Regions from separate parts of the Homo sapiens genome. Here region 2 is linked to region 1. Evidence: fine-mapped expression QTL. A gene starts in region 1. The other region holds a variant in brackets. All regions are shown on one strand. Distances are between the middles of the regions.

Region 1 (4,387 bases):
CTCTACTAAAAATACAAAAATGAGCTGGGCACAGTAGTGCACACCTGTAATCCCAGCTACTCAGGAGGCTGAGGCAGGAGAATCACTTGAACCCAGGAGGCGGAGGTTGCAGTGAGCCGAGATTGTGCCACTGCACTCCAGCCTGGGCGACAGAGCAAGACTCCATCTCAAAAAACAAAACAAAACAAAACAAAAAAAGAATTAGAGAAGGCATCTTTCCTCCCTAGAATGCCCCAGGCAGCGAAAGAATTTTATAGGAAGCAAGGGGCAGATGGATGTCTAGCCATCACAAGTATCTATACTGCAAATTCACATTCTGAGAGGCTTTAAAGTTTAAAGTGTGATAGCAAGCCACTCTTCCCAGTGCCTGGGTCCCCTCCACCCCTCCCCCCGTACCCACATGTCCTGGTAGGCCTTCTTCATGCTTTGGGCAGCAAGCTCCATGGTACGAAGGACTTCTGCATTGGTAGTGGCATTCTCAATGGCCTCACGCTGAAACTCCAGGGTGGATAATGTCCCGTCAGTTTGTGCCAGCTGCTGTTCGAATCTTTTCTTCCTCCGCAAAGCCTGTAGGGCAGCTGACCCAGCCCATACCCTGAACATCAAGAGTCAGAAGCACCTGCTTCCCATCTGGGCCCTCCCCATAGGCTTGTTTCCCTCATTACCTCTCTTATTCTTGGTCCCATACTTCTTGGCTGTTTGTAGCTCCTGTTGAATCTTCTGCTCCAAAAATTCCTGTTTCTTGATCAGTATCTTCTCTGTCTCCTTCAGTTTCTGTATTGCTTCTTCAGGGGTTGGCCCTTTCTCCTTCTTCCCTGAGGAGTCCAGTGGAGTAGGCCCAAATTTTGTGAAGGAAAAATATTAGCCACCAATCATTGAATACATAGTATGTGCTAGAGACCTGACTGTGTTATTGCTAATCCCCAAATCTCTACAATGAACGTGCTATCTCTTCACTTTAAAAATGTGAAAACAACCACAAAGATGTTAAAAATCACAACTAATAAGAGATTGTGCAGGAATCAAGATGTGGCAGTATGAGTTCTAAAACCAATATTCTTTTTACTATTCCTAGCTGCCTTTCTTTTTTTTTCTTTAGGCAGAGTTTCAGTCTTGTTGCCCAGGCTGGAACGCAATGGCGTGATCTCAGCTCACCTCAACCTCCGCCTCCTGGGTTCAAGCAATTCTCCTGCCTCAGCCTCCCAAATAGCTGGGATCACAGGCATGTGCCACCATGCCTGGCTAATTTTTTGTGTTTTTAGTACAGACAGGCTTTCTCCATGTTGGTCAGGCTGGTGTCGAACTCCCAACCTCAGGTGATCTGCCCGCCTCGGCCTCCCAAAGTGTTTTGATTACAGGCATGAGCCACCGCGCCAGGACTTCTTTTTTTGAGACAGAGTCTCGCTCTGTTGCCCAGGCCAGAGTGCAGTGGCATGATCTCAGCTCATTGCAACCTCCGTCTCCCGGGTTCAAGTGATTCTCCTGCCTCAGCCTCCCTGAGTAGCTGGGACTACAGGCACACACCATCATGCCCACCTAATTTTTTTTTTTTTTTTTGAGAATGGAGTCTCCCTCTGTCACCAAGGCTGGAGTGCATTGGTGCAATCTTGGCTCACTACAACCTCCGCCTCCTGGGTTCAAGCGATTCACCTGTCTCAGCCTCCCCCAGTAGCTGGGACTACAGGCGCGTGCCACCACAACCAGCTAATTTTTTTTTTTTTTTTGTATTTTTAGTAGAGACAAGGTTTCACCATGTTGTCCAGGCTGGTCTCGAACTCTTGACCTCAGGTGATCCACCCACCTCGGCCTCCCAAAGTGCTGGGATTACAGGCGTGAGCCACCGCGCCCGGCCAATTTTTATATTTTTAGTAGAGACGGGGTTTCACCATATTGGCCAGGCTGATCTCAAACTCCTGACCTCATGATCCACCCACGTCGGCCTCCCAAAGTGTTGCGAGTACAGGCGTGAGCCCCCGCGCCGGGCTAAGAAGGCAGTCTTTCTTCTTCACCTTAGATCCCTCTTGCCCAGCACAAAGTATTATAGAACAAGGTTTTGAAAATGGCTGAAGACAGCAGGAAACTCGTCTTCAAGCCTGAACAGTGGGAGTCAGCACGATCGCCACGCCCTCAACTCAAGTCCCCTCCCAGATCTTGAGTTCTTCCCTCTGAGAGTGGGGGAGGACGGCGGACGGGAACAAGGCGCCCCGACATGGTGTGCCTTTTGGCACCGGCGATGAGCCTTGCTCCGCCATCGGCCGCCGGGGTTTTCCAGTCAGCCTGTCTCCTGATTCTCTTCCCCTGCCCGGCGCAGCGGTCCGGCCGAATCTCGCCGGGGTCTCCTCTTCCCCTGCACCAGCCAGCGCCTCCTGGCTGGCCAGTCCCACCCTGGCTCACCCTTCCCGAAGAGCCTGCCGAGACCACTCATCGCGAGCTCGCCTCTCCCGCCTCCGCCCCTCAGCGTCCTCCAGACTTCCGCCTTGCTCCTGGGAGGGTGATGTCTCATCACACAGGGACCAGCCTTGCCCAATCCGTCCTCAGGGCGCCGCCGCGACATCAAGAGGCGCAAACGAGACCACCGGTGTCACGTGACCCAAGCCACCAGCCCCAGACCGACGCGCTCCTCTTAAAGCTGCCACATCATTTTCTATTAAGTAAAAAGACAGTTCTATCTCCACCTGAGTACGTGCTTGTTCTCCGGAAGGAAATGTGCAGTGTGATGGCACCTCAGTGTATGGGGTCAGTGGGAAAACTTCATGCTCTTTACAGAGCTCAGGAAAGTGGGGTGGTATAGGTTCAAGCACTTGGGGTTGCCCTAAGTTTAGATGGCAAACCTGATGCAGTCTAATGTCTCACATTCTGGTCTCTGCACCTCAGGACAACCAACCCCATTTCACAGGCTAGAAAAATAGAAACTCCCCACACTGTGGGTAAAATCTCTTCTGTCACACACAGATGAACTTTAATAAATTACAAATGCACCTGAAAATGCCTTCTTGATTTCCTTTCAGTTTAGGCCTCAAATGGGCTCTCCTCAAGGCTGGACCTCAAAGGCCCAGTTTGGGCCTTCGCAAATGTCTCTAACCCTTGACTTAGAGTTTGAAGATTCATTCCATTCTGGATGTGAATGCAGGTAACACCTAGAAAGATAAGAAGTCACATTTCATTAAGCTTTCAGGGTTCTCCATTATTACTCTGACCTTTGTGAGTGCCACCTATAGGGCAAACTATCCAACCTGTATGTATCTACCTAATCCCTCCTAGGGACCCCAAATGGCTGTTCCTCATCACTCAGTACCCAGTTTGCTGACGTCTACAATATTCCGCCTCTCATCATCAAAGAAGATCATCTGGGAGAAAGGAATTCCAGTCTTCTGCTGCAACCTATTCAAGACAGGGCAGGAGTAACCAAGCTAGTATCTTGGTTTCCCAGGCCTCTCTGATACTTTCTCACCCTGCTCCTCCCTTATCTCCGCATACCTCTCAAAGTGTGTGATCTTGCTGCCTGGATAGATTTCCCGATGAACAAAGTACCTGAAGAGGTCAAAGAGCTCCAGTAGCTGGTTGGCCCCTTCTATCTCACTTGTCCTGCAAAACGGTGTAAAAGATGGGATTAGCAAAGTGAAGGGCCAGGGCTACGTTAACTTATTAAGCAAAGTTAGTAAGTATAACCAGGGAAATCAACTTGCTGTTTTTCCGGGATGGACAGGCATCCTCAGCCTCTGTTTAACTCCATTGCCTTCCTATTTGACACAATTGGTGCTGGGCCAATGTTTTAGCTTTTGTTTTGAGACAGGGTCTAGCTCTGTTGCCCAGACTGGAGTGCAGCGACCCAATCACGGCTCACTGTGGTCACGACCTCCTGGGCTCAAGTGATCCTCCCACCTCAGCCTCCCAAGTAGCTGGGACTACAGGTGCACGCCACTACAATTTTTTTTTTTTTTTTGGTAGAGATAGGGTCTCCCTCTATTGCCTAGGCTGGTCTCAAATTCCTGGGCTCAAGTGATCCTCCCACCTAGGCCTCCCAAAATGCTAAGATTACAGGTGTGAGTCACTGTGTCTGGCCCCACTTTTTTTTTTTTTTTTTTTTTTGAGACATTGTCTCACTCTGTCACCCAGGCTGAAGTGCAGTGGCTCCATCTCAGCTCACTGCAACCTCCGCCTCCCGGGTTCAAGCGATTCTCCTGCCTCAGCCTCCCGAGTAGCTAGGATTACAGGTGCGTGCCACCACGCCCTGCTAATTTTTGTATTTTTAGTAGAGACGGGGTTTCACCATGTTGATCAGGCTGGTCTTGAACTCCCGATCTCGTGATCCACCCGCCTCGGCCTCCCAAAGTGCTGGGATTACAGACGTGAGCCACCGCGCCCGCCTGCTGGCCCCACTTTTTAA
Region 2 (4,387 bases), 36 kb after region 1:
GATTACAGGCATGAGCCACCATGCCTGGCCACTATAGATTTTTTAGCTCTCAAATTTGTCCACCCTAAGCCTCCAGCTATGAGTCAATTACACTTTAAGTTTTCCTACCCTGGTACTGGCTCCCCAGAAGTTTCTGTTTCTGTTTCTGTTTCTGGGCTTCTGCTGTTAAGTTGTGATTCTCTGTATCTGCCTTTTTGTCTCTCCAGTTTTAGGGGCAGCAGTTTGCCCTGTGCCCTCAATTCTCTGATAGATCCAACAAGAGTTGCTGACTTTCAGTTTGTTCAGCATTTTTCTTTGTGAGGACAGGAGTGAGGACTCCTAAGCTTGTTACAGGCCAGACTAAAAACCAGAGGTCGTTATCTTCATTTTTTTTTTTTAGATGGAGTCTCACTCTGTCGCCCAGGCTGGAGTGCAACCTCCACCTCCCGGGTTCAAGCAATTCTCCTGTCTCAGCCTCTCGAGTAGCTGGGATTACAGGCATGTGCCACCATGCGTGGCTATTTTTTTTTTTTTTTTGTATTTTTAGTAGAGACTGGGTTTCACCATATTGGCCAGGCTGCTCTCGAACTCCTGACCTTGTGATCCACCTGCCTTGGCCTCCCAAAGTGCTGGGATTATAGGCGTGAACCACCGTGCCTGGTCTACCTTCCCTTTTATAATATGGTCTTCCTCCTGAGCTTCGAATTTCTGTGCATGGCACCTCTCTTCGTGGCACCCATGAGTCAGAAACTCAGGCCACCACCCTTATCTCTGCCCTCCCTCCTCTCCAAATTGAATCTGTTATCAAGTCTAATCAGTTCTATTTCCTATACAACGTTCAAACCCACCCTTTTTTTTTCATTCGTACTGCTTCTACCCTAATTCAGGTTCTCCTATCTCTCATCCCAAGAGGACTCTATCTTCCTACCTCCAGCCCAACCCCTCTAATTTCTTTTCTATGTTGCTTTCATTATGAATCATGTGAAATGCAAAACTTGATCATATCATCCCTAATTGAAAGCTCCCCCTTACTTTCAGAAGAAAGTCCAAACTCCTAAATATGGCAAAAGGATTTTTAATGAACTGGCCCAAGCTTACCTCTTCATGCACATCCTTTGCCACTTTGTACTCATCATGCACCCATATGCCAGTCCTCATCCAGCTGTCTGCATTTTCCAAACATACTGTGTTGTCTCACATGTCTGTGCTTTACACGTGTTGGGTGATTCCTCTGTCCTTTGCCTCTTGGACTTGACTTTTTCTCATCTTTCATGGGTCATCTGGTAATCACCTTCATGAAGACTTTCTGTATCAGCCCAGGCAGAATCACAGTTCTCTGGGCCCCTCAGCATCCTGAACATCCCTCTACTACCATGCAGAACCTATCTCATAAGGTTATTGTAAGGATTAAATGAATTCATAAAGTGCTTGGAGCCTGGTTCCTGGTAAGTGTGACATACGCATTTACTGTATTTAGAATGTTTGCATGTCTGTCACCCCCACTGGACAGGAGCACCTTAAGGGAAGGGCTTGTTTCTTCTTGTGCATGTTACACTACTGATGCCTCAAGGTGTGCACCTTGTTCATGTGTTTACAGCTAGTAGGAACAGCTCAATTTTAGCTCTCTTTTTCCTGCCCCATGAGCCCTTTGTCTTGAAAGCCTTCTAAACTTAAAGGTTCAAGAAGACATGCGTTCAGGACCAGAATATCAGGTACATGATCTCATGGCTACTGCTAGCCCAAGAAGAATGCAGGCAGTGGGAATGCAGAAAAAAGAACAGCTGAGAAGAAAAATGAAAGGGCATCGTTCTTGATCTTCAGTGTGCACAGGAGTCAAACTCTTGGTGAGTTTGTTCTGGGCCTCTTCCACGGGGATTCTGACACATGAAGTCTATGGTAGGGCCCATCTATCTGGATTATTAATAAACATTTCAGTGATTGTAATAGAAGTGGTCTAGAGACTACACTTGAAAAACCCTGAGGTAAGGGAACAGTTTCATTCAAACCAAAGCCAAAATCCTCCAAAACTCACCCACAGGAAAATTTCCAGGTAGAAGAGAGTTATACAAAGAGTATCGACTCTGTCTCTCTGAGCCTCAACTTCCCTTGTGGTTCCCTCTCTCTGGTGAGGGACACCAGCCCCTATCAGTGGATGATACAGGAAGGCCATGTGCAGCCCTGGGACAAACCATGGCTCCATCCGTCTTGGTGTGGCATGGACTGAAAGATGGACAGAGCAGCAGCTTCATTAAAAAACAGTTTATTAGCATCTGTTCCCCCAGTGCAAGTGAAGACTGACTCCCTCTCCGGGAGCCCTGGACTCCCCCTCCGGGAGCCCTGGACTCCCCACCTGAGCTCCTGGGGAGCTGCTCTGTAGTGTGCCCCTATCTTGGGGCAATGTCCTTGCTCATCTGACTCCAGTCCCATTGCTCCTGGCAC[G/A]GGGCTAAGCTCCACCTCGAGATGCCATAGGGATGGTCTCTCCTAAGTGACTGTCACCTCCAGCGTCTGAGAAGAAGCCCCCATCCCCAGGGGCTGGGGCCACATCCACCTGGATGACACCGTGCACCTGGGAGAGCTGTGGGCTGTCCAAGCTGGCAATGAGCTGGCGGGGGCCTGGTCGCACAGGCACAAACGACTGGCGCAGTGTCACTGTTTCATTGCCTCCAATGTCCCTGTGGGCAGAGACAAGGTCATGGGCCTGGAGTAATTGGGGGTGGAGTGGGGAGTAAGAGCTGATCCAGGGCAGTCAGGAGGAAGAAGCAGGAGGTGGACCCATTCAGACAATTCCAGGCTTACCTGAAATTTCCACACCCAAGACCAGGATCCCCAGGGCGCCTCTGCATAGCCAGCTCAGCAGCCACCCACCAGCTGCCTGTGCTGGAACTCTCCCCATCGTCTGGGACTCCTCCCTCCCTGCTCCCACATCCACCTGGACAAAGACTGCTGATGCCACCGCAGAGGCCTCTCATGCCATCCCCTCCATCACCACTGCTCCTGCCCCAGACAGAACATCCTCATCTCACCTGGGGTTTCCAAAACCAAGAAAACTTCAAAATGAGACTTTGGGGGCCCAACACAATATTTTCAAATACTTTCAGTTTTGACAAGAGCATAGGTTGAAGAAAAGTAATCACTCTCTGCTATGATCGTCGTTCCAAAGAGAAAAGAGCATTTTCACACACCAAAACATTAGAAGGATGTTATCTTTGAAAAAAAAGGAAAATCCTTCCCAAGAACAGACAACAGACATCTTTAAATGGACATAAACCCTTATGTCTCTGTGTGTGTGTGTGTGTGTGTGTGTGTGTGTGAGAGAGACAGAGAGGTGGGTGGACAAACACACACACACACACACAACCAGTGTTTTCATTTTCTCCTTTCCACATGGGCCTCTGAAAAATTGATTCCCAGACCTCCCCTGGGAATCATGATTTCACTAGTCCTCTAACGGGACTCCTTGCCTCGCATCCCACTTTTGTATTCTGTTCTGCTAACCACTCAGAGGTGAACTAAATCCTTCAAGGATTTAGTGCTCCTTTGGTGCTTGTGGCACACGATCCTGGCTCTCTAACTTGACACACAGGCTCACTCTGACCCAGTCCCTGCTACTTGCACAGCCTCATCACCCCCCATCATTCCTCCTGCTGAGCAGCCCTACCGAATGCCTTCTTCCCCAGACTCACCTCCACAGTCATGCTTTGCAGTCTTTGCCTTGTGTGGAATGAGCACCCAGCTCTGCCTCCCCACCCTGGGTGTCCTTGTGAAGGCCTACTTTTCCTCCAAGGCCTGGCACACCACTTCCTCAGTGACGGCTCCCCTGAGCACCTCCTGCCTCTAGGAAAAGGAAACTCACCCTTCTCTGAGCTCCTCCAGCAATCTGCACGTTTCATTTTATACACTGAACATGACTGCATTTATATTGCATTTGCTCGTGCCTGTGGGAATTTGTCCTTCCTGCCTTTGCCTAAACCTTACCTCTGGTGCCCTATTCAACCCAAGCCTGCCGCTGGGGACCCTTTCCAGACATAGAACCTGTGCATTAACTATTGTCCTCTAAGAGAATGAGCCAACATCCCTAACTCCAAGGATGAGTTTTTTTCAGGGCAAAGCATTTGGCTTGGAACCTGGTTCTGAGGGGTTTCCCTGGACCACTCTACTCCCTTTTCTACCACTTGTTAGCTGTGAGGCTTATGAGAAGCTATTTAACTTCTCTGTTCCTCACTTTCTGGGTCATAAAATGGAAGTGAAAGTAAAAGGAGGAGTGGGATCTGATTATCTTGAAGGTGTTTCTGAGCTCTCTGAAGGAGGGAGGCAGGGATATATAATAGAACGTAGTATGATAGGAAGTCTATAAATTAAGTCTATAACTTAATGGCTAGGCTATGTCCTGACTGCTTACAAATTTGCA

Direction of the effects. Alleles are on the strand shown, and positions count from the first base shown. SD is a standard deviation of normalised expression in the study named.
In carriers of allele G in region 2, the expression in hypothalamus of the gene that starts at base 2,474 in region 1 tends to be lower than with A alone (moderate effect, 0.44 SD a copy in GTEx).

What was found. PIP is the estimated chance that this variant, and not a neighbour inherited with it, causes the effect. A credible set is the group of variants that fine-mapping cannot tell apart.
Region 2: its variant is the best candidate, but not a certain one, in a credible set for the expression of CHMP4A in hypothalamus (GTEx, PIP 0.51).

The regions. Positions count from the first base shown.
Region 1 is chr14:24,211,015-24,215,401 of GRCh38, forward strand. It overlaps CHMP4A (charged multivesicular body protein 4A), which reads right to left and starts at 2,474. Exons shown (of 6, transcript NM_014169.5): 1 at 2,395-2,474; 2 at 666-815; 3 at 401-578. The coding sequence starts at 2,425. It overlaps NEDD8-MDP1 (NEDD8-MDP1 readthrough), which reads right to left. Exons shown (of 7, transcript NM_001199823.3): 5 at 3,478-3,585; 6 at 3,296-3,381; 7 at 2,929-3,137. The coding sequence ends at 3,010. MDP1 (magnesium dependent phosphatase 1) reads right to left here. Exons shown (of 6, transcript NM_138476.4): 4 at 3,478-3,585; 5 at 3,296-3,381; 6 at 2,929-3,137. The coding sequence ends at 3,010. RefSeq lists enhancers at 1,883-2,002, 1,957-2,765, 2,193-2,692, 2,329-2,623, 3,778-4,387.
Region 2 is chr14:24,246,891-24,251,277 of GRCh38, forward strand. It overlaps TGM1 (transglutaminase 1), which reads right to left. Exons shown (of 15, transcript NM_000359.3): 15 at 2,224-2,651. The coding sequence ends at 2,423. Among named protein-coding and RNA genes, the nearest start is that of TINF2, 6.5 kb to the left of the region's middle. RefSeq lists enhancers at 33-232, 2,830-2,979. The variant G/A (reference allele first, on the strand shown) is at 2,419.